Linked DNA regions of Homo sapiens. The protein of the gene in region 1 purifies or fractionates together with the protein of each later gene. This does not show direct contact. Each region holds a gene or a part of one and is shown in the gene's direction. Other genes may lie near its edges.

The links.
Region 2: the proteins of SIL1 (region 1) and CNTNAP1 purify together in Homo sapiens (affinity purification with mass spectrometry; 2 studies listed by BioGRID and IntAct, with this or other methods). This does not show direct contact.
Region 3: the proteins of SIL1 (region 1) and PLXNA4 purify together in Homo sapiens (co-immunoprecipitation; one large-scale study listed by IntAct). This does not show direct contact.
Region 4: the proteins of SIL1 (region 1) and OMA1 purify together in Homo sapiens (affinity purification with mass spectrometry; 2 studies listed by BioGRID and IntAct, with this or other methods). This does not show direct contact.
Region 5: the proteins of SIL1 (region 1) and ERGIC2 purify together in Homo sapiens (affinity purification with mass spectrometry; 2 studies listed by BioGRID and IntAct, with this or other methods). This does not show direct contact.
Region 6: the proteins of SIL1 (region 1) and POC1A purify together in Homo sapiens (affinity purification with mass spectrometry; 3 studies listed by BioGRID and IntAct, with this or other methods). This does not show direct contact.
Region 7: the proteins of SIL1 (region 1) and COL14A1 purify together in Homo sapiens (affinity purification with mass spectrometry; 2 studies listed by BioGRID and IntAct, with this or other methods). This does not show direct contact.

Annotation. Positions count from the first base shown.
Region 1 is NC_000005.10:139,191,494-139,195,816, reverse strand, and holds part of SIL1 (nucleotide exchange factor SIL1 precursor), read left to right. Parts: intron 1-4,323.
Region 2 is NC_000017.11:42,689,031-42,693,353, forward strand, and holds part of CNTNAP1 (contactin-associated protein 1 precursor), read left to right. Parts: coding exon 1-17; intron 18-490; coding exon 491-597; intron 598-1,057; coding exon 1,058-1,177; intron 1,178-1,708; coding exon 1,709-1,912; intron 1,913-2,106; coding exon 2,107-2,263; intron 2,264-2,353; coding exon 2,354-2,481; intron 2,482-2,775; coding exon 2,776-2,961; intron 2,962-3,468; coding exon 3,469-3,690; intron 3,691-4,266; coding exon 4,267-4,323. UniProt on the Homo sapiens protein: Required, with CNTNAP2, for radial and longitudinal organization of myelinated axons. Plays a role in the formation of functional distinct domains critical for saltatory conduction of nerve impulses in myelinated nerve fibers.
Region 3 is NC_000007.14:132,177,670-132,181,992, reverse strand, and holds part of PLXNA4 (plexin-A4 isoform 1 precursor), read left to right. Parts: intron 1-372; coding exon 373-612; intron 613-1,260; coding exon 1,261-1,407; intron 1,408-2,071; coding exon 2,072-2,306; intron 2,307-4,323. UniProt on the Homo sapiens protein: Coreceptor for SEMA3A. Necessary for signaling by class 3 semaphorins and subsequent remodeling of the cytoskeleton. Plays a role in axon guidance in the developing nervous system. Class 3 semaphorins bind to a complex composed of a neuropilin and a plexin.
Region 4 is NC_000001.11:58,480,727-58,484,226, reverse strand, and holds part of OMA1 (metalloendopeptidase OMA1, mitochondrial precursor), read left to right. Parts: intron 1-3,052; coding exon 3,053-3,262; 3' UTR 3,263-3,500. UniProt on the Homo sapiens protein: Metalloprotease that is part of the quality control system in the inner membrane of mitochondria. Activated in response to various mitochondrial stress, leading to the proteolytic cleavage of target proteins, such as OPA1, UQCC3 and DELE1.
Region 5 is NC_000012.12:29,336,461-29,340,444, reverse strand, and holds the end of ERGIC2 (endoplasmic reticulum-Golgi intermediate compartment protein 2), read left to right. Parts: 3' UTR 1-3,093; downstream 3,094-3,984. UniProt on the Homo sapiens protein: Possible role in transport between endoplasmic reticulum and Golgi.
Region 6 is NC_000003.12:52,137,032-52,141,354, reverse strand, and holds part of POC1A (POC1 centriolar protein homolog A), read left to right. Parts: intron 1-3,052; coding exon 3,053-3,186; intron 3,187-4,323.
Region 7 is NC_000008.11:120,229,162-120,233,484, forward strand, and holds part of COL14A1 (collagen alpha-1(XIV) chain isoform 1 precursor), read left to right. Parts: intron 1-2,305; coding exon 2,306-2,457; intron 2,458-4,323. UniProt on the Homo sapiens protein: Plays an adhesive role by integrating collagen bundles. It is probably associated with the surface of interstitial collagen fibrils via COL1.

The DNA of each region.
Region 1 (4,323 bases):
AAATAACAGATTTTTGGAGGGTGGTGAACATGAGTTTTAATTCTGAGTCTACCACTTATTAGCCACATAACCTTGGATAAGTTACTTCACCTCTGGGGCTCAATGTACCACTACATAACAGTGGGAATAGGGCCGGGCATGGTGGCTCACGCCTGTAATCCCAGCACTTTGGGAGGCCAAGGTGGGCGGATCACGAGGTCAGGAGATCGAGACCATCCTGGCTAACACGGTGAAACCCCGTCTCTACTAAAAATACAAAAAATTACCCGGGCGAGGTGGTGGGTGCCTGTAGTCCCAGCTACTCAGGAGGCTGAGGCAGGAGAATGGCGTGAACCTGGGAAGCGGAGCTTGCAGTGAGCGGAGATCACGCCATTCACTCCAGCCTGGGCGACAGAGCGAGACTCCGTCTCAAAACAAAACAAAACAAAACAAAAAAAACTGGGAATAATATTTACTTTGAAGGGTGGTTAAATGACGTATTACACATGAAAGCTCTTGGGACATAGGAATGCAATAAATGTTTTCACCCTCAAAGAATGAAGATTTGCCGTTAATGAGAATATTCAAAAGAACATGAGAGTCTCTGGCCGGGTGCGGTGGCTCACACCTGTAATCCCAGCACTTTGGGAGGCTGAGGTGGGTGGATCACCTGAGGTCGGGAGTTCAAGACCAGCCTGACCAACATGGAGAAACCCCGTCTCTACTAAAAATGCAAAATTAGCCGGGCGTGGTGGCGCATGCCTGTAATCCCAGCTACTCGGGAGGCTGAGGCAGGAGAATCACTTGAACTCGGGAGGCGGAGGTTGCAATGAGCCGAGATCATTGTGCCATTGCACTCCAGCCTGGGTGATAGAGCGAGAGATTCTGTCTCAAAAAAAAAAAAAAAGGCTCTGAAAGGAAGTTGTACCTTTTTCGAAATAGGTGGATTCTCTTTTTCACATACTTGTGGATTCATACTCTGACCTGCTCAGCCTCCCCCTGTCTTTCTTCATTCATTTTCTGTCCTTTCCTAAGTGAAGTTTTGCTGCAGAGGCTGTCTGCCAGTCTCTTGTAGTAAGCCTCTTTTCAGGAGAGCTAATCTGAACTCTCTTACAATGCTAGTCCCTTAGTCGCTATTCCTAGGGATTTTTTTCTGGGGGCTCCAGATGGTGCTTGGATCACGCTCTGTAGCACAGCCATCTCTAACTCCTGGATTTGGTGTCAATTTGGAGACCCATCCTGTGGAGCTAATCTTCTCTCTTTCTGAGCAAGGATGAATACTTTATCCTTTTCTGAGTCGGCCTTAAACTGCAAACCTTAGTCTTCTACAGCAGAGAGTCTTGTATTTTAATTATACGTAGACTAAAGACGGAATAGCATGCCCTTTTCTTTTCTTCCTTTACTTTCACCAAGGATTTCACTGCTGAGTAGGGGAGTAGGAGAATAGCCTGTTGCCATTCAGAGTGAGGCCTTGGGTAACCCCTGATTCCTAGCATAAGCAATAACTGAGTTCATCTTTGGGACAAAAACCTTGTAAAAGATTCGGGCTGCTCAGACACATGTGGAGAACCTCAAGCTAGGAATTTTCCTAGCTTGTGAGGAGTTTACACCTGGCATTCTTACTTTTGCAAATTTGTACCCAGAATCCAGTAGCAACAAAACTATATTCAGCCCAGACTTGTAGTTCCTTCAGGTTCCACCAGGCAGCTGTAAGACATGGCTGTGATTATGCTGGCTGGCCATGTTTGCCTTCATCCTCCTAATACTGCCCTTGGCTTTGGTATTGAGAAGGAAGTGGCATAATCAATTCATGAGTAACATTCTCTGCCAAAGTGGAAATCAGGGGCAGAGAGTTGTGAGCATAGGACTAGACAAATGGAAAGAGCCAGCCTTGCCTCAGGAATGCTGCTAAAGTGCTGTGAATCCGTGACAACCACTGTGTTTCTTGGTGTCACCTCATTTGTGAAATGGGAATGCCTTCATTGATCTCTCTCTTGAGAAGAGTGGACCACCATGCCAGTTTTCCCAGGACAGAGGGATATCCGTATGTGGGACTTTTAGTGCCAAAAGCAGGAAAGTCCGGGGCAAACCAGGACAAGTTAGTTACCCTACCCATGACCATTATACAAGTTAATGAACACTGTGCCCTTAGGGTTCATCTAAGACTCAACCCTTTGGGTTCATCTAATTATTTTTCAACCTTTTGTTCATTATCATATTTTGAGACTTTTTTTCCCTTAATTGTCTACTCCCCAGTGGAATGTTTTTTTGAGAGGGAGTCTCACTCTGTCGCCCAGGCTGGAGTGCAGTGGTGTGATCTCTGCTCACTGTGGCCTCTGCCTCCTGGGTTCAAGTGATTCTTGTGCTTCAGCCTCCTGAGTAACTGGGATTATAGGCGCCCACCACCATGCCCAACTAATTTTTGTGTTATTTAGTAGTAGTTTTTGTGTTTTGCCATGTTGGCCAGGCTGGTCTTGAACTCCTGGCCTTAAGTGATCTGCCCACCTCAGTCTCCCAAAGTGCTGGGATTACAGGCATGAGCCATCGTGCCCAGCTACCCCCAATGGAATTTTAATACCACAGATGTACTGTGTATCTGTTTTTGTATTGTGGCCCTTTGGATGGCCACAAACCATTGTAATATCTAACTTTTTTTCCCCCAAGAATCAATTTTCACCCCTTCTGGGCTGTTACTGCACTCACTGAGAATGCATGGTCTTATCTGATATTCTTTCTTTAATGTAGTCATCAAGGCCAGTTTTTTATCCAGAAGAAACAGCTAGTACCACAAGCTTTTTCGTTTCCTTTCCTGTTTTTTTTTTTTTTTTTTTTTTTTTTTTGAGACTGAGTTTCGCTCTTGTTGCCCAGGCTGGAGTGCAATGGCGTGATCTTGGCTCACTGCAACCTCTGCCTCCTGGGTTCAAGTGATTCTCCTGCCTCAGCCTCCTGAGTAGCTGGTACTACAGGCATGTGCCACCACATCTGGCTAATTTTTTTTTTTTTTGGTAGAGACAGTCTCACTGTGTTGCTCAGGCTGGTCTTGAACTTCTGGGCTCAAGCATTTCTCCTGCCTCGGTCTCCCAAAGTACTGGGATTATTAAGTGTGAACCACCACACCCAGCCAAGTTTATTCTTTATTGTTTTAATTTTCTTCCAGTCTTTGGATTTTGAGGTGGTCCATTTATCATCTGCTTCTCTGGTGCCTCTTGGACCTTCCATCTTCACAGCTGGGGCTGCTGTGTTGGCCCAGGTGTCCCCAGACTGGACATCGGAACCTTTGGGAAGAGTCTGATGTTTGGCCCTTGTCACATTTCACATTTCACATCTACAGAGAAATGGGGAAGGGTATGTTTCTGAGGTCTGCTCATAGGCTATGTTGTGACTGAGGAAGTTCTTGATCATCCCTTTTGGTTACCACTTATCATCACTGGCAGAAAAACATCAAAGTGGTCAGTGAACTCATCTCCACATCTGGCTACTTCCATCTCTGCAAGTAGTTTGCTTCTTCAGTCTTGTGATGGGAAAGAGATCTAGAAACTGGAAGAATAATCTGAGATACATCCTAAAGTTCTGGTGAGGAAAGCTAATGCCAATGGACTTTTTTTTTTTTTTTTGAGATGGGGTCTTGCTATGTTGCCCAGGCTAGTCTTGAACTCCTGGGATCAAGCAATCCTTCCACCTCAACCTCCTGAGTAGCTGGGATTACATGCATGTACCACCATGCCTCACTCGCCAGTGGATTTTTTTTTTTTTTTTTTTTTTTGAGACAGCATCTTGCTCTGTTGCCCAGGCTGGAGTGCAGTGGCACAATCTCGGCTCACTGCAACCTCTGCCTCCCAGGTTCAAGTGATTCTTCTGCCTCAGCCTTCCGAGTAGCTGGGACTACAGGCGCCTGCCACCACGCCTGGCTAATTTTTGTATTTTTAGTAGAGATGGGATTTCACCATATTGGCCAGGCTGGTCTCAAACTCCTGGCCTCGAGATCTGCCGGCCTCGGCCTTCCAAAGTGCTGGGATTACAGGCGTGAGCCACTGTGCCTGGCCCTTTTTAAGAGGGTCTCACTCTGTTGCCCACGCTGGAGTATAGTGGTGTGATCATAGCTCATTGCAACCTCCAACTCCTGGGCTCAAGTGATCCTCCCACCTCAGCCTCCCAAGTAGCTAGGACCATGGGTGTGCACCACCATGCCTGGCTAATTTAATTTTTTTTTTTTTTTTTAAAGAGACAGGGTCTTGCTTGCAACATTGCCCAGGCTGATCTTAAATTCCTGGCCTCAAGTGATGCCCTACCTTGGCCTTCTAGAGCACTGGGATTACAAGTGTGAGCCACCATGCCCAGCTATAC
Region 2 (4,323 bases), on another chromosome or scaffold:
TGTGGCATCACTGATAGGTACCCAGAAGCCCCTAACAAGAGATGACCCCTCCAAAGCCCTCTTCCCTGGTCTCCCAGTAGGAATGGCCTCTTTCAATAATCTCCCTTCTCCTTGTCTCTGCTCCTTAGTCCCCTGCTTGGGGATGATTCTTCTTTGATCTCTTACCTCCTATTTCTTCCCTTAAGGTGATACATGCTCAGGATGGAAATGACACATTTGCTTTTGGTCCTAGAGGGGTTTTTTGTGCTAGGGGGATGATAGGGGTAGAATAAGGCATGTTTTGATGTTTTCAGGAAGGGGGAATAGTAGTACTTGAGCCCTGAGGACTGCCTAGTGCCCCTGCATCTGCGCTTATACCCGGCTGGCTAGGCGGGGTGTGTCTCACCGGGTTCTGGGGCTTCAAGGAGCTGGGAGTGAAGCTTGCAGGGATCAGACCCCACTCTCCAGCTCCCAGTAAGGCTCCTTCCCTTGGTCCTGACCCCTTCCCTAGGTGCAGCCCTAACATGTGTGAGCATGATGGACGCTGCTACCAGTCTTGGGATGACTTCATTTGCTACTGCGAACTGACGGGCTACAAGGGAGAGACCTGCCACACACGTAAGCCAGATGTGGTATGGGGGGAGTCAGGGACAAGGGAGGTCAATAGAAGGTTGCTGGGGATCATCAGGCTGCTAGAGATGGCGAGGATGGCCCTTCCAGCCCTCTCGCTTTTTGTTTTTGGTTTTTTTGAGACAGAGTCTTGCTCTGTTGCCCAGGCTAGAGTGCAGTGGTGCCATCTGGGCTCGCTGCAACCTCTGCCTCCTGGGTTCAAGCGATTCTCCTGCCTCAGCCTCCTAAGTAGCTGGGACTACAGGTGCACACCACCACGCCTAGCTAATTTTTATATTTTTATTAGAGATGGGGTTTCACCATGTTGGCCAGGCTGGTCTCGAACTCCTGACCTCGGGTGATGCACCACCCCGGCCTCCCAAAGTGCTGGGATTACAGGCCCGAGCCGCCGCACCTGGCCAGCCCTCTAACTCTCTAACTGCCTTTGTCTCAACCTATTATCTGCCAGCTTTGTATAAGGAATCCTGTGAGGCTTATCGGCTCAGTGGGAAAACTTCTGGAAACTTCACCATTGATCCTGATGGCAGTGGCCCCCTGAAGCCATTTGTAGTGTACTGTGATATCCGAGGTAAGTGTCTCTGTTGGGTGGTGAGGGGGTGAGGGGAGAACCAGGAAGGATAGAGTGGTGGGTGGGGGCCAGTTAGACTAAACAAGTGAGGGTAAAGGAGGACAGAGGGGAAGGGCATACTGAGGAATTTGTAACCTAGCCTTAAAAGTAAATCCCAAGCCAGGCGTGGTGGCTCACACCTGTAATCCCAGCACTTTGGGAAGCTACTCGGGAGGTTGAGGCAGGAGAATCACTTGAACCTGGGAGGTGGAGGTTGCAGTGAGCTGAGATAGCGCCATTGGACTCCAGCCTGGGCAACAGAGCGAGACTTCATCTCAAAAAAAAAAAAAAAAAAAGTATATCCCAGCTTCCTTACCCATTCCAGCTATCTTATTTCCAGCCTACAATGCAGAGTGCCCAGGGCAGAGGTGGAATGGAGCTGCTGGCCACGTTCAGTGGCTCTGAGTTGCAGCAGCGGTGGTGGAGGTGGGCAGGGAGATGGGTAGAGAATGCCCAACTCCAGCCAAAGCTCTGTCCCCTCTTGTCTGCCAGAGAACCGAGCGTGGACAGTTGTGCGGCATGACAGGCTGTGGACAACTCGAGTGACAGGTTCCAGCATGGAGCGGCCATTCCTGGGGGCTATCCAGTACTGGAATGCATCCTGGGAGGAAGTCAGTGCCCTTGCCAATGCTTCCCAGCATTGTGAACAGTGGATCGAGTTCTCCTGCTACAATTCCCGGCTGCTCAACACTGCAGGTTAGGGCTGGGGTCAGGGAGGTGGCGGAACTGGAGGAGACACCAATGGGGGCCTGGGAGAAGGAAGCCAGAGAGCCAGCTGGGGCCTTGGGTTGGAAGATTCAAGGAGGGGTCTGAACTCGCTGGAAGGGCGAGAGGAGCCCAGAGGCTAATGGAGGGACAGGGCCTGGAAGCTGCCTGCACCTCTTCCCCAGGAGGCTACCCCTACAGCTTTTGGATTGGCCGAAATGAGGAGCAGCACTTCTACTGGGGAGGCTCCCAGCCTGGGATCCAGCGCTGTGCCTGTGGTCTGGACCGGAGCTGTGTGGACCCTGCCTTGTACTGCAACTGTGACGCTGACCAGCCCCAGTGGTGAGGGGGCAAAGGGACAGGGTTTTTAGGACTCCGGGAGTGGGAGGAGCTGAGTGGCTGGGGCTGAGCCATGACATCCTGCCCCCACAGGAGAACTGACAAGGGACTGCTGACCTTTGTGGACCATCTGCCTGTCACTCAGGTAGTGATAGGGGATACGAACCGCTCCACTTCTGAGGCCCAGTTCTTCCTGAGGCCTCTGCGCTGCTATGGCGATCGTGAGTGGCAGTCCCCTTTTGTGTGCCCTCCCAGAGCTGACTCTCCAGTTTCCAAAATCTAGGCCGCATGTCACTGGTGGTCTCTAGCTGGGGTGCCCGACCCCCAGCTCCTGCTGTGATGCGATCTCATTACCCCTCTGCACCTGGCTCCTCTTTCATTCCACTCCTTAGTCTCCCCTCCGTCACCTCAAACCCTCCCCCTTTGCCCAACCTTCCCTGCCCCCAACCCCAGGTTCTCTTCCTCCTCCACCCTCCAATCTCCCTGACAAGACCTTCCTCCATCTGCTTTTCTAGGAAATTCCTGGAACACCATTTCCTTCCACACCGGGGCTGCACTACGCTTCCCCCCAATCCGTGCCAACCACAGCCTGGATGTCTCCTTCTACTTCAGGACCTCTGCTCCCTCGGGGGTCTTCCTAGAGAATATGGGGGGCCCTTACTGCCAGTGGCGCCGACCTTATGTGCGGGTGGAACTCAACAGTGAGCAGGCAGACTGTGGGAGGGCCTCGGGGTAGATGAAAGTGCTGTCTGGGGAGACAGGGGTAGGCTGGGGTTGGAGCCAAGGGCAGATGCCCTTTTGACAGGCAGCATGGGAAGGGTTGAGATACCCTATGTTCTAGCCCTCACTCGGTCTTGACGGCTGGCTGGGTGACCCTAGGCATTCACTTGGCCTCTCTTGGCCTTAAGCCCCTTCCTTGTGCCATAAGGAAGCTGGACCTTCGAGTCCCTCTCACCGCTGATTAGCCATGCTTCTAGCCTGGGAAGTGAGGCTGGGAAGCTGGCTTCAGGGATCTGTGATGTGGGGAGAGACAAAGGGTATGAGGTTTTTAAGCAGCTGGTAAGTTTCAATGCAAGCTACAGACAAATTGGAGGGATATTCAAGAAGCTCCAAAGAGGTGAGGGAAAGAGGTTATATTGGGCAAGGATCTATGAAGGGTCTTGTAGGTCTGAGTCCTTTTCTCCCCTACCCTGCATCACACTGTCCAGCATCCCGGGATGTGGTCTTCGCCTTTGATGTGGGGAATGGGGATGAGAACCTCACAGTACACTCAGACGACTTTGAGTTCAATGATGACGAGTGGCACCTGGTCCGGGCTGAAATCAACGTGAAGCAGGCCCGGCTCCGAGTGGATCACCGGCCCTGGGTTCTGCGGCCTATGCCACTGCAGACCTACATCTGGATGGAGTATGACCAGCCCCTCTATGTGGGTAAGCAGCAACCCAGAGGCAAGTCTGAAGCCTCCTTTACCTCCCCATCCTCCAAGGCCACTCGCCTTGTTTCCAGGAGCCTCCTGTCTTAGGTGCCAGTCCCCTCTGCTTCAGAGCAAGCCAGTGTCTCACTTGTCCCTCCAGGCCTTTGTATCCTATTCTATTCTTCCAGCCCTCTTGGCTCCCTTTCCAACTACAATACTTCATCCTGTCTCTGGCTCTGCCTCCATTTCTTTTCTTTTTTTTTTTTTTTTGAGACGGAGTCTCGCTCTGTCACCCAGGCTGGAGTGCAGTGGCACGATCTCGGCCCACTGCAAGCTCCGCCTCCTGGGTTCAAGCAGTTCTCCTGCCTCAGCCTCCCGAGTAGCTGGGACTACAGGCGCCCGCCACCGTGCCCAGCTAATTTTTTTTGTATTTTTTAGTAGAGACGGGGTTTCATCATGTTAGCCAGGATGGTCTCGATCTCCTGAGCTCGTGATTCGCCCGCCTCGGCCTCCCAAAGTGCTGGGATTACAGGCGTGAGCCACCGCGCCTGGCCCTGCCTCCATTTCTTGACCTGTTGCCTACCCTTCCCAGGATCTGCAGAGCTTAAGAGACGCCCCTTTGTGGGTTGCTTGAGGGCCATGCGTCTGA
Region 3 (4,323 bases), on another chromosome or scaffold:
ACTGATAACCCACAGCCTGACACCCTTGAATACTAGGATAGTGGAATAGGGGGGAAGACATAAGGGCATTTTTACTTCTTGGGGTATAGACATGGAGGAGTAATTACTTTTGGGGTTCCCTGGGTTTTATACCTTTACTCTTGCATTCTTCCAATCCTAGCCATTGCCACACCCACTATGGGCAAAACCGGAGCTGGGTGCAAGCTATAGAGCCTATTCCTTGAGTGCCCAATTGTGTGGCCCTGACTCATCTCTAATCCTCTTGTCAACCCCTTGCTATCCCGATGACATCCAGGGAGGCCCACTATGTGCACTGGGGCTGTGGGTATGTGGAGATACTGCATAGACTCCACTCTGTGGCTCCTCCCACAGATCTGTGAGGTTCTGAACGCTACTGAGATGACCTGTCAGGCGCCCGCCCTCGCTCTGGGTCCTGACCACCAGTCAGACCTGACCGAGAGGCCCGAGGAGTTTGGCTTCATCCTGGACAACGTCCAGTCCCTGCTCATCCTCAACAAGACCAACTTCACCTACTATCCCAACCCGGTGTTTGAGGCCTTTGGTCCCTCAGGAATCCTGGAGCTCAAGCCTGGCACGCCCATCATCCTAAAGGTGGAGTGAGGGTGGTGGGAGGCGGGGGTGGGAAAAGAAGGGGCTGCTGCATGGAAGGGGGTGTTCAAGTCACAGACTCCTGCCACATTTCTCAACCAGCATCTCTTGCAGAGGTTGCAGTGTAGCCCAGAGTGTGATAAATGTTCTCTCTGAGTCTGTACTGGGAAGAAAACTCTCTTTAGGGGCCGGTTCTACCCAGGGAAGGCAGATCCACCTTGGCTATTTGACTCTCAAGCTTTTATTGTCCTGAAAGTCCAAGTACTGGCAGGTCAGGCTCACTGCTTCCTCTGAGGCAGCCTTGTGCGAACCACAGCATAGGGCTTCCTTTGGAACATGGGTTACAGGTTAATTAAAGCTTATGACAATTTGAATCAATTGGTAGTGACTGACTCCAACTCTGCATTGAGAAGGATTCTGAGGCTGCATTTGGGATAAGCTGAAAGGAGTACTTTGATAACTGATTAGCCACTGGGAGGAAGAGGCAATGGTGGTAGTCATGCCATGAATATTTTTTGCACTTATTACCAAAGGTGGCTTCTTCACCAGCTCACCAGCGGGATGGGACCTCCAGGTGGGAGGACATGAGAGCCAGCTGGTAGCTGTGGTCCTCACTCTGGGGTGGGAACTGGTGCTTTCCCATTTGTACAGGGCAAGAACCTGATCCCGCCTGTGGCTGGGGGCAACGTGAAGCTGAACTACACTGTGCTGGTTGGGGAGAAGCCGTGCACCGTGACCGTGTCAGATGTCCAGCTGCTCTGCGAGTCCCCCAACCTCATCGGCAGGCACAAAGTGATGGTGAGGCTGGCAGAACCCCATCCTGGATGGAGCGGGCAGTAGGGATGCAGATGTGAGCTCAGGCCACCAAGGCTTTCCAAGAGGGGATTCTGTCCCACAAAGAACTTTTCCTGTAGCTACCCCACACCCCAAGTTCTTTCTTCATGTTCACTTTTGAGCTTCTCTCTTCTGTATTGTCATTCTTTCCACACTGGCTGGTGCAACAATAAGGAAAATGCAAAACAGCATTAAATAGTTGCTAAATCACCTGCAACAAACAAAGCCTTCAAGGAGAAGGCTGTTGCTGGCCCAGGGAATTCCGTAATATCTTAATATCATGTTCTGTGCTTCAGTTGTCCACCCTTAGATTGGGCATAAATCTTAGGGGAGCCAGTCATTTGTGGCAGACTGTGTTTAGGTCCCAGTTGTGTGCTGTTTTCTTATGAAGATGACAAAACTCGCTCCTGAATAAGAGGAGGTGAGGTTTTTCCAGTTGGGGGTGAGCTCTGTTAAGCTGTGCCTGTCCCCGCTCCCAGCCCCCCATGCCCTCTTGTCTATTTTGACACCAGTGATTGGTCTCCTTTCCGTCATCCTGCCCTGGTCACTAGTTCATGGGTAACTTGGGACTGTTGCCAAAGCTGCTGCGTCCCCACACCCAGCTCCCTCTTGCCCTGTGTGCCCCCAGGCCCGTGTCGGTGGCATGGAGTACTCCCCGGGGATGGTGTACATTGCCCCGGACAGCCCGCTCAGCCTGCCCGCCATCGTCAGCATCGCAGTGGCTGGCGGCCTCCTCATCATTTTCATCGTGGCCGTGCTCATTGCCTATAAACGCAAGTCCCGCGAAAGTGACCTCACGCTGAAGCGGCTGCAGATGCAGATGGACAACCTGGAGTCCCGTGTGGCCCTGGAGTGCAAGGAAGGTACTGAGTGGCCCCATGCTGGAGGCCATGTGTGTGTGCGTGTGTGCATATGTGTGTGCATGCACATCTGTGTATGTGTATGCATATGTTTCATATACAAACAAGCAGGCTGGGCAGCAGTGGGCAGTGCTGGAGGCTGGCGGTGTGTGTGTCTGTGCGAATGTGTGTGTGTGCATGTGTGTGTGTGCACATCTGTATGTATATATGTTTCATATACAAGCAAGCAGGCCGGGCAGCAGTGAGCAGTGCTGGAGGCTGTATATGTGTCTGTGTGCGTGCGCATCTGTGTATGTGTATATGTTTCATGTACAAGCAAGCAGGCCGGGCAGCAGTGGGCAGTGCTGGAGGCTCTGTGTGTGCGTGTGCATGTGTGTGTATGTATGTGTATGTGTTCCATTTACAAGCAAGCAGGCCAGGCAACTGTGAGCAGTGCTGGAGGCTGTGTGCGCGTGTGTGTGTGTATGTGTATGTGTTTCATTTACAAGCAAGCAGGCCAGGCAGCTGTGAGCAGTGCTGGAGGCTGTGTGTGTGTGTGTGTGAGCACGCACGTGTGTGAGCACGCACGTGTATGTGTATGTGTGTCATTTACAAGCAAGCAGGCCAGGCAGCTGTGAGCAGTGCTGGAGGCCGTGTGTGTGTGTGTGTGTGTGTGTGCGCGCGCGCCTGTATATGTGTATGTGTTTCATTTACAAGCAAGCAGGCCAGGCAGCTGTGGGCAGTGCTGGAGGCTGTGTGTGTGTGCACGTGTGTGTATGCGTATGTGTTTCATTTACAAGCAAGCAGGCCAGGCAGCTGTGGGCAGTGCTGGAGGCTGTGTGTGTGTGTGTGTGTGTGTGTGTGTATATATGTGTATGTGTATGTGTTTCATTTACAAGCAAGCAGCCCAGGCAGCTGTGGGCAGTGCTGGAGGCTGTGTGTGTGTGTGTGTGTGTGTGTGTATGTGTTTCATTTACAAGTGTGTGTGTGTGTGTGTATGTGTATGTGTATGTGTTTCATTTACAAGCAAGCAGGCCAGGCAGCTGTGGGCAATGCTGGAGGCTGTGCATCCTACCTGCATACCTGCAAAGCCTCTCACTCTATAGTCCCTATGCCTGTGTCCCAGACCACACCCATACCCAAGCAGGCCCCACCCTGGCAACACCAGAGAGGCCAAGGTCTCCTTGCCCTCTCCTTGAAGGTGTAGTGATTAGAATCTCTTTTATGTGTGGCAGGCACACAGCTTTGAATGTTGGAGGCGCTTGGTGACTTAAAGGAAAGCTGCAGACTGATAAAAAGCCAACTCCCTCCTTCTGCTCCCTGTGGGCCGAGCACCCCAACTGGGAGGGGGCAGCCGAGGGGAGCTCCCACCCAGGATTGTCACCTTCACCCCACTAGAGCACCTTCACCCCACTAGAGCAGCCTCCATACCTGGAATCCTGGTTGAGTGGGTTTTGCACTCTACTCGAGGGGAGGTCTGGGGGTGTCTTAACATGACGCATTTCAGCAATCTCCAGCTTTCTTCCTCTAGCAGGAAGGTAAGGCTGTAGGGCTGATCTGTGATTTAGAAGGAAGGGTGTTTCAAAGCTTGTATTAAAAAAATTACAAACACCACCATAAAGTGAAATCAGCTGCACTAAATCCAAGAAGGAAATTTAGGAGTCAGACTCTTGTAACCCCCAGGATATCATTTTGTGACTCATCCTGGGAGGATCTGAGCTGGTTCTTTGCTGTAGATTTGTACATGGAGTAAATCCGGCCCCATACCTGGGGCTCTCACTTCACACCGATTCCCACCAGGGCAGCCACGGCTCTTTTTGATGGGGAAGTGGATCCATTCCATCCCCTCTCTACATCCTTCAGCTGTCAACACAGCATCCGCCTTGTGGGACTGTTAATTACTGCCTTTTATTATATTTACGCTGCTTAATTTTTTTCTCCGCAATGTACTCTTTCCTCTAATTAGGTGTAGTGATTAGAATCTCTTTTATGTGTGGCAGGCACGCAGCTTTGAATGTTGGAGGCGCTTGGTGACTTAAAG
Region 4 (3,500 bases), on another chromosome or scaffold:
GGAACAATTCTAATGCCCAGTAACGGAGAAATACAAAGTAAATTACATGAGGGCAGGGACCATGACTATTCTGACCAATGTGTACCTAGCACCTTACTCACTGTGGTGTTCTAAATATTTGTTGTATTAAAAAGACTGAATAAGCGAATTTAAGGATAAGAGAAGAGTTTTTACTGAATACACAAAGATCTTAGGGGATGGCATCCTATTCCTCTCTTTGTTGCTTTGCATCTCTCATTGCCACACTCAGCTGTGCCAGTTGTTACCTGCTGGACTCCATACTCTCCCCCTTTACTGATGCCAGTGCAGTGCTTAAACATAGGCACTACACTGATATAGCAGCCATGACAGGTAAACTTCTCACTTGGGAAAGAAAATTAACATCATTGTAAAGGAACTAATGCAAGAGTGACCGTACGTCCCAATTTTGCAGAGACAGTCATGGCTCATGCCTGATGTCTCAGTGCAAATCTTGCTAGCATCTCATTTCATTCTCAAAGGTATCCCAGTTTGGACAGTAGGTCACCGTTTAGCTGAGGATCTGACTTTCTGTTTACTTAAGTGCTGTAAGTGCTATAGTTGGGAAACATTTTCTTGTTGTGTCAATTCAGTTTACTTAAACATTTACTTAACACTCACTAGATATAAGGAAATCTTAAATCTGCTGTGAAATACAAAGAAAAATAAGACAAGACCACTGCCACTGAAGAATTTCACGTTAAGTAATGTTTTTTCAACTCTCCAGCTTACCTTGGTAACTCAGAGCCTAATCAGAGCTAGAAGTGCTCCTAGACCCAAGCTTCTGCCCTGACCCCATTCACTTAGAGAACGTCTATCTGGCTCGCATCTGACTACAAGTCCCTCTCTCCTGTGGGACTCAATGAAATGTTAGCATACAAGAACCTGTGCCCCTACCATACCCCACTCAGGGTATCTGGAATAATGGAATTCCTTGCCCAGATATGTTTGAGCCTGCTTTCAGGGCCCATCTGGACCTCTTCCTTGAACACATTCACACAAGGCCCTTTACAGTGCCAGATAAGCTAGGGCTGGGAGAGGGGGCAGATGGCAGGCTAGTGGCAAGAGCTACACAGTAAGCTCCCTGCAATCTTACATGTTCTGAAATTCAAGAATTCTAGTTTTGTACCTGGACTTCCAGGTAATTTCGAATGTGTATTCTTCAAAGTAGGAGAATAGAACAGATTTTAAGTAGTAGTGTATTAGCTTGACTTACTGCTTTTAGGTGTTTAGAGACATGGTATCTGGGCCTCCATTTTCATTCTTTCCATGGACCCCACAAATATTAGAGGCAGGCTGTTTAGAGTAAAACTTAAAATCCTTAGCATGACCTGTGAGGTCCTACATAATCTGCTCCTGCCCTCCACCCTGCTCCACTCGGCTGTACCTGCTTCTTCACTGTTCCAAAACACCCCAGGCACGCTCCCATCTCCCTTGTACTCGCAGCTCCCTCTTGGAATGATTTTTCCCTAGGTTGCCACATGGTCTCTTTCCTCATGTCCTTCAGGTCTGTCCCCCTCTTGACCCCCAAAGTCATTATCCTATCAGTGAGGCCTTGCCTGGATAGTCTTTCTAAGATTTTACCAGTCCCTCAAACACTGTCTCCTTTACTGCCTTATTTACTTCCCTTAAGACACATCAGTATCAGAAAGCCAGAAGTCGTAAAAAACTGAATTAGCTTTTTCCCCTAAATGTCTTTCTTTTAAAACTCCTAAATATTAAGACCATTTATCCTTAAAAATTATTTTGGCTCTTATATCTTAAAATTATCCATATACCCACTTTGAAGAGTTAAATAGTTCTAAGGCTAGTTACTTAAATCAGCAGCCAGTCCCTCAACCCTGCCATCAGTTTCAGGGGTAACTATTTCCAATTCTATTGGACGATTCTTTTAGTATTTCCCATTGTGTCTAAATAACATGCTTATGTTGCTACATTCTAACTTCAATTTTGGGCCTTAATTATTTTCCACCTTACAGGATGAGACGTAAGCCCTCTCTTTCCAGTGTCACACCCTGTGCATGTGCACACACATGCAGCTCTCCCCTTCTCAGTATGATGAAATTGTACTTTTTGGTTTCATCAAGATTTGGTATTTTAAACTGTAAGCACTAGTCATAGCTGAGCCCCATAGTACACTGTGATTACTTTTCCTTCCTTTGCAATGTTTTATTTCTCCTGGAGTTAAAAATTGTCATGATTTTGATTTGTTTACTTTTCTAAGTATATTAGTCCATTCTCATGCTGCTAATGAAACATACCTGAGACTAGGTAATTTATGAAGGAAAGAGGTTTAATTGACTTACAGTTCCATATGGCTGAGGATGGCCTCACAATCATGGTGGAAGGCGAATGAGGAGAAAAGTCATGTCTTACATGGCGGCAGTCAAGAGAGCATATGCAGGGGGAACTGCCCTTTATAAAACCATCAGATCTCGTGAGACTTAATCACTATCATGAGAACAGCACGGGAAACACCCACCTCCATGATTCAGTTACCTCCCATGACATGTGGGAATTATGGGAACTGCAATTCAAGATGAGATTTGGGTGGAGACATATGCAAACCATATCACTAGGTTATTATCATCAATTTTACCCAAGACTGTATCAGTTATGTATATCTTTTTTCAGTATATTCAGTCATCTATGTTCTGCAGTTTTTCTTGAAAAAAATCTCTCATAGAGCCTTTTTAAATCTGAATGATTCTCCGGTCTGCTAGAGTTTAACTGAAACCATAGATGTATCTCTAAGATTTGTTTACCCTCAAAACAGCATTAGGGCAGTTGTTACAGATTATTAATACTATTGTTGTTGTTTTTAAAATAATACTATTTGACCAAATCATGAAAACAACTGTTCACTGTAGATTTTTCAGTGGTTCTCTTTTATGTGTTATAATCAAGATACCTTTTATTAAAAAAATAACAATACATTCTTTGTTTTACATGGAGCATATTAGGGATTACTGAAACAATCTGAATACATTGATGTATATATATAGTATTTTTTTATTTTATTATTTCTTTATAGGCTCTCAAAATTAGAGAGATGTGTAATTGTCCACCACTGTCTAATCCAGACCCTCGATTACTATTCAAACTCAGCACGAAGCATTTTCTTGAAGAATCAGAGAAAGAAGACCTAAATATCACGAAGAAACAGAAAATGGATACTCTTCCTATTCAAAAACAGGAGCAAATACCATTAACATACATAGTTGAGAAAAGAACGGGCAGTTGAATTAAAATTTATGAGACACAAGATATATGAAGAATGTTGCAGTCCTTATCATTTTATGTTACTTTTTAAAAAATGATGTTTGAAGTGAAAAAAAAAAGGATATTCAGGGTCAAATCATGTACATTACAGATATTATCTAAATTCTTCTAGAATTTATTTTTCATGAAATATTGATGTATTTTAATCTATGTTAAAATATCTTCAATGAGGAAAATGTCACAGAATAAATTTATATTAC
Region 5 (3,984 bases), on another chromosome or scaffold:
AATGGTATAGTAGAATCTTATACACGGAAAAGAAAGCACATTTTTTTAAAAAAGATGCCAAGTTTTTTAATCTAATCATTATATTATTGGTGTATTTTGGGCAACATAGGGTGAGTTATAAAAAGATCCGCTACTGATAGTGAAAATTACCGGTTTGTAAAACATTAAGAGAAAAAATAGGATATTTTATACATGTGGTGAGTGGAGAACAGGGTAACTTTAAATGAAAGTGTAAGGCAAATTGTAAGCACCACAAGATATATCAGATTTGAGAGGTGCCATGTTAAACATTGTCCATTAAACTATAAAACTGTATTATGAAGTATTTGCATTCAGGGTGTCCTGAATATGATTGATTCTGTATTAGATTGTGTTCTAACTTTCTTACTATTTAAGGATTGGTTCTAAATCTTCACATTATAAAAGATTAAAAACAGTGAGAGGGAGCTATCACACAGGTACTATTAAAAGCTGTATTTGGAATATGTGTACCAATATCAGTTTTCCTTTTGTAGTACTGAATGGCAGTAGAAGAATCAGCAGCCAATCCTCAAAGTTTAAATCATTTAAGGAAATGGGGAAACAAAATTCCAGGTAAATAACAAGACTGAAAAACTAGATTTAAAATAGTGGTTTTAGAAAACAGGATATCACAAGTAACAGTTTTTCAAATGGATTTTTTTAAAGATAAATTTATGAAAACAGGATAAACAATATAATGGAGAGAAGGAGAAATAGTGATGGGTCTGTTTTGCAGTAAAGTTTATGCAGAATGACGTTTTGCAGAAAATAACAGAAGCATCACTTTAAAAAATATATCATTAAGAGCCATGACGTTAACTGATGAAAATAAGTGATATAACATACTTTGAAAGATTTTTAAACAGAAAATTCTGAATCGTGAATGAGCCTTCTCTAGGTTTTAATTTTTTTTCTTCAAATTATTTCCAACAAAGTTTGGCTATAAACTAACACCATCTATCCACAGGAATTTTAATAGGAAAGGATTAGAATTGTAGACTGATTGTTGGTCCTTTAAGTATGCTTGGAAGAAAATTCAATCGAGTTTCAAGGCTTTTTCTAAATGGGAGGGAGAACAATATTGATTTAGGATTATTTTCTTTCATTTAGGATTAGAACAGTTAAGTGCCTTTAAAAAGGACTTTAAAAATTATTTTGATACTTATATATGATTTTTAATTGTTTTCGTATTTTCCAAATACCATATTAAAATTTTAATGAAATTTATCTCCTATGAAAGGAATTTCTTTAAAGCAAAATTCTGCTTTGCCTTTGATTTCCATTTTAAAAGTTAAAGGCTTCCATCTGAAACTCCTCAAATAGAGTCAGATTTTTGGCAATGGAAGTATTAAAATTCCGATCAGCCCTTTGGACGATGAAGTTTACCTGCATATTAGGATTTGTTAGGAGTTTTTGGCCTCACCAAGTGATTCTTTTCTATTGCAGAGAGCACTTTACTCACCTACCTGTTATGCAACTTTCCCTATGCCTGGAGGTGCCTCCAGCCAGGATACCCTACTTTGTTACCCAATTCTCCTTTTTGTTTTACAAGAGTATTCATAATATCTATATGTTTATATTCCAGACTACATATTTAAAAATGAGATCTCAAATTATATGAAATGGATTTTTAAATACTGTGTTTGCATACATTGACCTATAAAGAAGATTAAATATTTAGGTGAATAATTCCCTGCTGCAGTATTTGTACACTTCAGACTACCTCTTAGGAAAAGCTTAACTTAGTATTGCAAAATTCCCTTTCTCTTTTTTTTTTTAAGAGATGGGGTCTCGCACTGTTGCCCAGGCTGAAGTGCAGTGGCATGATTGTAACTCACTGCATCCTCGAACTCCTGGGTTCAAGCAATCCTCCTGCTTCCATCTGCTGAGTAGGTAGGACTACAGCCATGCACCAACAAACCTGGCTAATTCTTTTTCATTTATATAGTTAGTATCTTGCTGTGTTGTTCAAGCTGGACTCCAACTCCCGGACTCAAGTAATCCTCCCACCTTAGTCTCCTGCATTGCTGGAATTATAGGCACGAGCCACTGCACCTGGCACCCAAATTACTTCTAGTTCTCAAGTTAGATGATTAATATCACACTTTTCTCATGTATGTTTTATGATAGCATTGAATTTTTATAATTAAAAATTTACTAATGCAAACAAGATTTACAGTCTTTAATACAATCTTAATTTTGGAATTCATGAAGGAATGACTAAGTTCTAATTTTTTTTTTTTTTTTTTTGAAACTGAGTCTCGCTCTGTCGCCTAGGCTGGAGTGCAGTGGTGCAATCTCAGCTCACTGCAACCTCCGTCTCCCGGGTTCAAGTGATTCTCCTGCCTCAGCCTGTTGAGTAGCTGGGACTACAGGTGCGTACCACCAAGCCCAGCTAATTTTTTTATATTTTTAGTAGAGACGGGGTTTCACTGTGTTAGCCAGGATGGTCTCAATCTCCTGACCTCATGATCCGCCCACCTTGGCCTCCCAAAGTGTTGGGATTACAGGCATGAGCCACTGCCCCTGGACAGATCTAATTTTTTAATAGTGTAAGAGAGATACACTGTGCATTCCATCTATGTCCTGAGTTAGTAATTCAAGTACCAAAAAGTAATTTAATATGAAACTCCTTGAAAATTCAGAGCTTACACTTGAATTCAAAATGCCTATTTTTGATTGTTTAAAAGTTACTTAAACCTGAGCTTTAGGACCTTTAAAATCTCAGCATGCCTTTTAAGCTAGTACTTTTCCTGTTTTGAGCTCTAGCAAACCTTCAGCAAGCCAAGGTGGTAGCCCTTTTTCAACACAATCAAAATAGAGAGGTCACCAGTTGTTTACTACCTTATGGTAAAATGCCCGGATCAAGATCCATGTATCCCCCCCATATTGTGATGATGCAATCAAAGCATAGTTTTTTTCTACTTTCTGAAATATTACTGATGAAATCACTTTACATTTAAGAGGAGAAAACAGACTGCCTTGGATTTTTTTTTTGTCTTGAGAGAAAAAACAAAATATTTAGTATTGCAAGCATAAACATTTGGACTCAATAAATGACAAATTATGAAACTTTTTTTGTCTTTTTAATACTAGGAGAAAATTAAAATCATGTACCCCCAAATAAGCCTCAGTTCCCATATTTAAACTTTTTTCTCATAGGAAAGCTACAGGAATTTTAAGATATCACATGGTTACATTTGCTTTTCTTCCAGATGGAGCTAAATTGCTATATGATACAGGGTTTATTTTATATTTCTCATATTAAAGATGAAAAAGTGAAAATTGAGTAGTTGACTCAAAATTATATGTATATATATATATATGTTAACAGTTGAATACAAACAAGATTACAAGCAGTGAAACATTCAAATAGTTTTGGCAACTCCAAATATTTTGTGTTTCACAAAAGGAGTTAGGTTAACTTTTCCAAATATAACTCATTTTATACTATTTTAATAAGGAGAAACTTAAGGATGAGAAGGCATGAGGAAAAGTATACATTAGTGAAAGCTATATACTAAAGCAGACCTTCAACAACAGCTCATAACTAATAAATGCTTTGTATTTTGTTTTCAAGCAGTTATGTAAATCAATTTGGTGATTTCTTACACTGTACTTACATTTACTTGACCCAAATTGCCGTATCAATCACATCTCCTATCCCTTTTGCAGTTCCAGGTTGGAATCAGTATTTCAAATAAAGTAGGGACACATCTAAAATATTTGTGTATCGGTAAAGGTGTTTCTGGCTATTTAAACTCAAGCATCCTTTGCCACAGTAGTATCTCCGTTTTGCACGGTACTACTGTCTCTCAAACCAGTTACATCTGAAAACCAGCAATTACTAGTCTTAGTTAATTACAAAAAAAAAAAAAAATTAAGCGATCTAGGCAGTGAGCATTTTTCCATACCTTTATGTGGGCATATGAGAATCATTACTTCTTACTATAGGCAGTTGCT
Region 6 (4,323 bases), on another chromosome or scaffold:
CTCCTCTAGAGAGGAACCTCCTGCTTGGGCACCCAGGCTTTCTCTGGGCCCTTGGCTGGTTTGCAGCCCGTTAGGTAGTGGGCCTAGGTTTGCCCAAGCCTCTACAGGCAGAGCAGCATGGAGTGGGTGTACTCAGGTCTCTGCTTAGACCACCTACTGCCCACAAGCCATGACTAGTTCTTGGTATTTGGGAGCAGGGGCTGTGGTGGCCTCATCCCTGGGTCCCTGAGGATCTGTAGAAGTTTGATGTTGGTGTATCTTTGACCTGGAGTCAGAGTTCTCTCTTTGGAGTGGAGATGGGATAAGAGCCACAAGCTCACAGCTGCCACCCAGGTGGCAGTATGTGTCATCACTGATATCTGCCATGGAGCCAAGAAGAGGCCTGCGGCTTTGGACTTGAAAAAAAGTGGATCATGCTCAGACATTTGGCGCTCAAGGCATCATGATAGAAGGCTCATGCCCTCATGGGACAGCCTAGCCTTCGTGGTAGACTCTCATGCAGGGGTGGTTCTTACGATGAGGCCTCCATAGACTACCCGCTCCCCACCACCTCCACAGAGGCAAGAGGAGTGAGAGTGGAGGCTGGTGCGGCCAGTAGGTGAGGCAGGAGAGCAAGTGGGGAAAGGTGGGGTGGGTCCTGGTGTCTGGGGTATCCCCCAAAGCCTGGTATGCCAGGCCAGCCCCTCTTCTGGAGTAAATGGTTCTAGGTGTTTCTATCCAGGCTTGGGTATTCCTGGCATTTATGTGGAGTGGAGATTCTGTTGCCCTTCTTCTGGGAGAGATTCTTTCCCTTGGATGGGCTTGACCAGGTGGGGGCCCCTGGTGTGGCATCCATACACTGACCCTGCCACCTTGATGGTGCTGGGAAGCCCAGAGCTCCCTGAGCATGCCCTCCCTTCTGCACCCTCCTGCCACCGGCTGTTCCTCTGGCAGCTTCTGCTCATGGAGGGGTGGAGGTGGCCTTCATCCCAGTGCAGACTTTCTGGTGGGGGGGTCTCTGAATTCTGCCTCCAAGAGCTGGCTTCAGAGACCCCACTGGTCCCTCTCCAGCCTGCCTCCTGGAGATCCTGGCGCTTGGAGGGTGTTGTTGAGATATAAATATCATGTTACGTAAAGCCTTGGCTGTTTCCCCCTAAGTGTGCCTGGGAACACGTATCCAGACTCCCCGGCACATCGGCACATCAGCTGGGCTGGCATCTGAGGGACTGCGTGCACCCTGTGGGCCTTGTTGAGGGCCGTTTCGTGTTGGGTGTGTTTACCAACCCAGTAGTGGTTCTTACAGCCTTTCAGTGCTAAGATGACGGTTGGTTTTGAATCTGCCTTTATGTTGGTGGCAATTCTGACTTGGCAGGGTCATGGTTATTTTAGCCCCACTGGTTTTCCTCATTGGGCCTCTGGTAATGGGAAGAAAGACACTGGGGTTTTCCTCAGAAGGCACCCTAGGAGGCTGTGATACAGCTGATCCATGCATTGGCTGTGGAGTTGCTCTGTCCCCACGTAGACTGCCCAGGTGTGCCCCCAGCTTCACCTAGAACATGCTCTTGACCTTGAGGGAGAGTTGTGTAACCTGCTGGGGCTTCTGGATACCCAGCTTAAGCACCTGCTCACCAACCACTTTCTGAGTCCTGCTCGGTGCCAGGGACTTACCACCCCTGCCTGATGGAGTTCATGGTCTCATGGGAGATCCAGATGTGAGTCAGATAGTTGCATGTGAATGTGAAGAGTGAACCGATGGGAGGCTTGTGCTGCTTTGGAAGGACAAATGAAGGGGGTGGCCCTAATTGGGAGGCCAGGGGAGGCTTCCTGGAGAAGGCAGCTTCCAGTAATGAGCTTTAAGGTCAGGGAAAGGGAAGGGCAAGAGTCTCCCAGGCCCATTGGAAACAAGGGGTAAAAAAGTTCTACGGCTGGGGGAATCGACAGAGCTGGGGTGGCCGGCTCTTGGAGAGTGAGGGACACCAGAAAAGATGGTGGGGTTAGCCTGAGATGGTAGGGAAAAGAGAGTCATGGACAGGGCCAAGCTGTTGAGTGGGTGAAGTGGCAGGACCTTGAGTTGCATGGAACACAGGGGGCAAAGGAGAGGAACATCCATGTTGGCATTGGATGGCTCACTCTGCAAAGACCTCATGTGCTTAACTTAGTAGCATCCGCACAGTACCTCTTACACATAGGTGCTATGGTACAGATGGAGAAACTGAGGCTCAATGTGGTTAAGATGCTTGCTCAGGATGGATGTGGTGGCTCACGGCTGTAATCTCAGCACCTTGAGAGGCCGAGGCAGGTGGATCATCTGAGGTCAGGAGTTTGAGACCAGCCTGGTTAACATGGTGAAACCCCATCTCTACTAAAAATACAAAAATCAGCTGGACGTAGTGGCACACCTGTAGTCTCAGCTACTCAGGAGGCTGAGGCAGGAGAATCTCTTGAACCCAGGAGACGGAGGCTGCAGTGAGCTGAGGTCGCACCACTGCACTCCAGTCTGGGCGACAGAGTGAGACTCTGTCTCTCAAAAAACGTCATGGGGTGAGCCCAGGCAGGAGGCTTGGGGTCCGAATGCAGGCCTGACTGCTTCCTAAGAGTGTCTTAGCTTTCTGCTCGTCTGCCCCCACACACGTCCTTCCTGTGTGGCAGTGGCATTGTATTGACATTTGAAGGGTTTTGTTTTCCATTGGTTTCTTTAAAGAAAGAGTATATCGGGCAGACCAAAGGCTATGTTTGTATGTTTGAGTACTCTATTCTGCTCCAGCTTGACCGCTTGGTGCTGTGGGAGAGGATGGAGGAATCGTCTGCTGCCTCTGGTTTTTGCATCTGTTTCTGTCCGCCTGTCTTCCACTGCCTGCCCTTGGCTCTGAACAGGCCTTTTCCTGTTCTTCGATTGTGCCCCTCTCCTGGGAAATCCTTGTTGGGTTCCCCACAGCTCTTCTGAGCAATGACCATCCTGACCCAGCCCCATCAGGCCTGTGCTGAGCCTCGATTGGCCCTGATTGCCCGTCTTGGGCTTCAGCTGTGCTCCCTGTGCCTCCTAGCCAGCACCTGACTGATGTCCTTCCCCCAGTGCACAGTGCAGCAGTGAACGGGCTCTCTTTCCACCCGTCGGGAAACTACCTGATCACAGCCTCCAGTGACTCAACCCTGAAGATCCTGGACCTGATGGAGGGCCGGCTGCTCTACACACTCCACGGGCATCAGGTGAGAGGTGTCGGCCAGGTGCTGAGTGGTGTGGAGTGGTGGTACCTTCACTGTCTGGGCAGTGGGCAAGATGCAGAAACAGGCTTGTCACCCACACAGCCTGCAGGGAGATGGATGGAGGCATTTCCATGTGACCTGGGCAGATTGCTGGGCCTGGGACTGGTGCAGCTGAGAAGGGTATATAAGAGTTGAATTGGGCAAGGGTTGGGGGCTGCATCTGGGCATGGTTAGCAAGCCGCCCCTTAGGGGCCTGAATGGAATCTGTCCCCTAATGGCCTCAGCCATCCCTTGGTCCAGAGGTTGAGTTGAGCCTTGGAACCCATGCTCTGAGTTGACATCAGGGTTTCCTGGAGGCCCTCGGACTGGCAGACATCAGTGTGTCTAGAGACTGAGGCAACCTCAGGTGTCTTGCAGAGGCTGGGACAAAGAAGGGAAGTCTTCTTCATGTTTGTCGTTTGAGAATTCCTGGAATGGAATCAAGGAAGCAAAGGCCTCCTTTCTGAATGAGCTTCAAAGCAGCCGGTTCCCTGGTCTCCCTGGGTGGGCTGGGTCCCTGGGGGCCGGCTGTGGGAAGTAGGCCACATGCAGTTCTCCCCAGGAACTGGCCTGGGTCCGGGCCTTTCACATCTAGTACTTCCACTAGGAAGTAGTGTCCGAGCCCTCCTGATCAGAGCGGTCGTCAGAATGTCTCCTGTTGGGGCGTAGTCACCATGCCCACTTGAGATGGGAGGTCTGGAGTCCATTGAATTCAAGTCTGTCTCTAATCTGCCTGCCATGCTGAGGGAGGCCCTGGGGGTGCTTATGTGTCTTGGACTATCAGCTAAGTCTGAGGTGTCTAGCCTGGTGTTTTCTGAGCTGTTGTTTGGGTTTCCACTGCCATCTGAGTTAGGGTACCTGGGGGCCATTTGGCTATGACTAGGGGATGGGGACATAGGCCTTTTCTTCTACTTCCTCAAGGTCTGGAGGCTGCTTGCTGCCCCCAGCCTTGTTGTGACCCCTTGCCTTCCCTGTCAGAGACATATCCAGTGTGCAGGACTAGTGGGCCTGTTCTCCCTGGGCCAGCACATCCAGAGGGGGTGGCTGCTGGCCCTGGTGTAAGCCTGTTCACAAGCCAAGCCCCTGGACAAGCAAGTTATA
Region 7 (4,323 bases), on another chromosome or scaffold:
CAGGTTAGTTACATATGTATACATGTGCCATGCTGGTGCACTGCACACACTAACTCGTCATCTAGCATTAGGTATATCTCCCAATGCTATCCCTCCCCCCTCCCCCCACCCCACAACAGTCCCCAGAGTCTGATGTTCCCCTTCCTGTGTCCATGTGTTCTCATCGTTCAGTTCCCACCTATGAGTGAGAATATGTGGTGTTTGGTTTTTTGTCCTTGCGATAGTTTACTGAGAATGATGATTTCCAATTTCATCCATGTCCCTACAAAGGACATGAACTCATCATGTTTTATGGCTGCATAGTATTCCATGGTGTATATATGCCACATTTTCTTAATCCAGTCTATCATTGTTGGACATTTGGGTTGGTTCCAAGTCTTTGCTATCGTGAATAGTGCCACAATAAACATACATGTGCACGTGTCTTTATAGCAGCATGATTTATAGTCCTTTGGGTATATACCCAGTAATGGGATGGCTGGGTCAAATGGTATTGCTAGTTCTAGATCCCTGAGGAATCGCCACACTGTCTTCCACAATGATTGAACTAGTTTACAGTCCCACCAACAGTGTAAAAGTGTTCCTATTTCTCCACATCCTCTCCAGCACCTGTTGTTTCCTGACTTTTTAATGATTGCCATTCTAACTGGTGTGAGATGGTATCTCATTGTGGTTTTGATTTGCACTTCTGTTGCTCTCTGTTGAGAATTCCCCTTCTTTTCTCTTTTTTTCTTTTAGAGACAGGGTTTCATTCTGTCATCCAGGCTGGAGTGCAGCACCACGATCAAGGCTCACCACAGCCTTGACTTCCTGGGCTCATGTGATCCTCCAGCCTCAGCCCCCCACGTAGCTGGGACTACAGACATGTGTCATCGTGCCTGGCTAATCGTTTTGAATTTTAGTAGAGATGAGGTCTTTCCATATTACCCAGGCTGGTCTTTAACTCCTGAGCTCAAATGTTCCTTCATCCTTGGCCTCCCAAAGTTCTGGAATTGCAGGCATGAGCCACCATGCCTGGCCTTGTTGAGAATTATTCTTACCATGTTTTCCTTGCATTTCTGTGGGTAACTGACACTTGGCTGGTCTATTGTTTTTCCTACATTAGTTGTTTCCTCTCTCAGCTTAGCTTTCCCCTTCACTGTAATACACCTCCCAACTAGCTGTCAGAGTCAACTTGGTAAAACACAAGTTTGATAATATCATTTATTTACTTCTCTAAGACACTTCAATGGCTCTCCATTACCCATTTGTTGATTTGTTCATTCTTCATTTAATCCTTATCAAGCCTTCTTTGTGCTTTAAAGTCTTTTTCACAGCATCCAAGATCCTTCCTAGTTGGGTCCTGCTTCCCTTCCTGGCCTCAACCATATTTCCTATGCTTCCCCCGTTTTTCTCTTGCAATCCCGAACTCCTTTCCCTAAATGTGAGAAGTTCCCTCCCATTCCCATTGCCTGGTAGCCCCCCTGCAATGTTGCCAGGTAAATGTCAACCCCCTCCTCCTCTGTGACACTTTTACTATTTTTGTTGAGTTAATAACTATATAAAAACCAAAGCCCTAACAGTCTGACACACAGAAAAAGTTCAATGAATATTTTCTAAATGAATTAATAGATGAATGAAGAGAAAGGAGAATGAGAAAAGATGGACAAAGGGAAATGAAGTTAGGGTAGAAGAGAAAAGAAAAAAATGCAACAAATAAGGGAGCAGGCACCTTGAGAGATGAGCACGAATGTGCCAGGAAACACAGGTAAAGGAGTTTGGACAAGTACCAGAGAAAAGATCGTGTCTGTGTGGGCTGAATGGATAAAGGCAGCCTGAGCGCAGATTTGTGCTTTGAATGACAGGTGTTAAAAGAGAAATGGAGGTGAGGGCAGGTGATTGGGATGTGTGTTGGATGCTGGATTGCACACAGAGGTGGACAAAGTCTGGCCCACTGTGCCCACTTGTCCACAGAGCACTAGTGTGAGGTTCTCATGACCACTCTTTCCTTTGGGTTCCATGGGCTGTTTTTCTAGTCTCAGGGCTTCTTCCCAGTTCTCTTTACTAGTGCACATACAGAACTGACAGTTTTGAGGGCTCCATGGTCTCATCTTGTAAGCATCTCTTAATTCCACTTTTATTTGCTGCTAGTAGGTATCATGCCTCCCCATTAAGCACCATAGCTGAGCCCTTCTTGCCTCATATACAACTATATTACAGGGATACATTAAATGATGCTTGCTGTCACCCCACAGGTATTCTCTGTGGCTCATTTTGGAATATGATATGTTAAAAGTTTTTTAATCCTTGGTTGTGTTTATTCCAGTTTTCCAGACGGGAATCAGAAACCTAGTTGTAGGTGATGAAACTACTTCTAGCCTGCGGGTAAAATGGGACATTTCTGACAGCGATGTGCAGCAGTTTAGGGTGACCTACATGACAGCTCAAGGGGACCCTGAGGAAGAAGTCATAGGAACGGTCTGTATAAATTCAACTGACTAGAAACTCTGCAGATGTTACTAACACAGCTAATAAGACTGTCTTCGGAGATCAATGCAAACTTTACTGCTCTTTTCTCAGTGACTCTGCCATCTCCAGAAACTAATGTTCTCTGTTAATCTGACTCCACTACTGGCTTCTTAGTGACCTTTATAAATCCAAAACTTGCTCCATGTACAACTTGCTCCAAGTTAATAACCTCTGAACATTGTTTCAAATATTGCTTCTCTTCTGCTGCCTTGCACCTGTTCGAGCACCAAAGTTGGGTCATAAAAGGCCATATGCACTTGTGTCTGTATATATGTATGTATAGACATGTATAAAAGTTTAATATAGAAAATAATTTCTTCTGCCCTTGGAAATCTGATAAAAAAACTTTTAAGCAAAGGACACAGAAAAGGTCTTCTATATGGTATAGTGAAAATATTCTTAATAAAATACCATCCGTTAACCAATAGTTATATTTTTCATTGACATCAACTCGTATTGAGTAGATTTATAGTCATTTCTAATTATTCGTAACATGGATGTATCCCCTCAGGGATTTAGATTTTTATACATTGAGTTTTCTTTGAGTTGTTTTATCTATCTTTCCTTTTTCTAAATGATACACTCTTTTTTTCTAATTTATTTATCTTTTTTTAATATACTTAAGTTCTGGGATACATGTGCAGAACATGCAGGTTTTTTACATAGGTATACATGGACCATGGTAGTTTGCTGCACCCATCAACCCGTCATCTACATTAAGTATTTCTCCTAATGCTATCCCTCCCCTTGCCCCACAACCCCAACAGGACCCAGTGTGTAATGTTCCCCTCCCTGTGTCCATGTGTTCTCATTGTTCAACTCCCACTTATGAGTGAGAACATGTAGTGTTTGGTTGCCTGTTCCTGTGTTAGTTTGCAGAGAATGATGGTTTCCAGCTTCATCCATGTCCCTGCAAAGGACATGAACTCATCCTTTTTTATGGCTGCATAGTATTCCATGGTGTATATGTGCCACATTTTCTTTATCCAGTCTATCATTGATGGGCATTTGGGCTGGTTCCAAGTCTTTGCTATTGTGAGTAGTGCTGCAATAAACATGTGTGGATGTATTGTTATAGTAGAATGATTTATAATGCTTTGGGTATACACCCAGTAATGGGATTGCTGGGTCAAATGGTATTTCTAGTTCTAGGTCTTTGAGGAATCGCTACACTGCCTTCCACAATGGTTGAGCTAATTTACAGTCTCACCAACAGTGTAAAAGTGTTCCTATTTCTCCACATCCTCTCTAGCATCTGTTGTTTCCTGACTTTTTAATGATTGCCGTTCTAACTGGCATGAGATGATATCTCATTGTGGTTTTGATTTGAGTTTTTCTAATGACCAACGATGATGAGCTTTTTTTCATATGTTTGTTGGCTGCATAAATGTATTCTTTTGAGAAAGTGACTGTTAATATCCTTCTCCCACTTTTTGATGGAGTTGTTTGTTTTTTTCTTGTAAATTGGTTTAAGTTCCTTGTAGGTTCTGGATATTAGCCATTTGTCAGATGAGTAGATTGCAAAAATTTTCTCCCATTCTGTAGGTTGCCTGTTCACTCTGATGATAGTTTCTTTAGCTGTGCAGAAGCTCTTTAGTTTAATTAGATCCCATTTGTCTATTTTGGCTTTTGTTGCCATTGCTTTTGGTGTTTTAGTCATGAAGTCTTTGCCCATGCCTGTGTCCTGAATGGTATTGCCTAGGTTTTCTTCCAGGATTTTTATGGTTTTATGTCTTATGTTTAAATCTTTAATCCATCTTTTCATTTTTGAAACATGCGGTGTTTGGTTGCCTGTTTCTTTTTTTGTCTAAGATT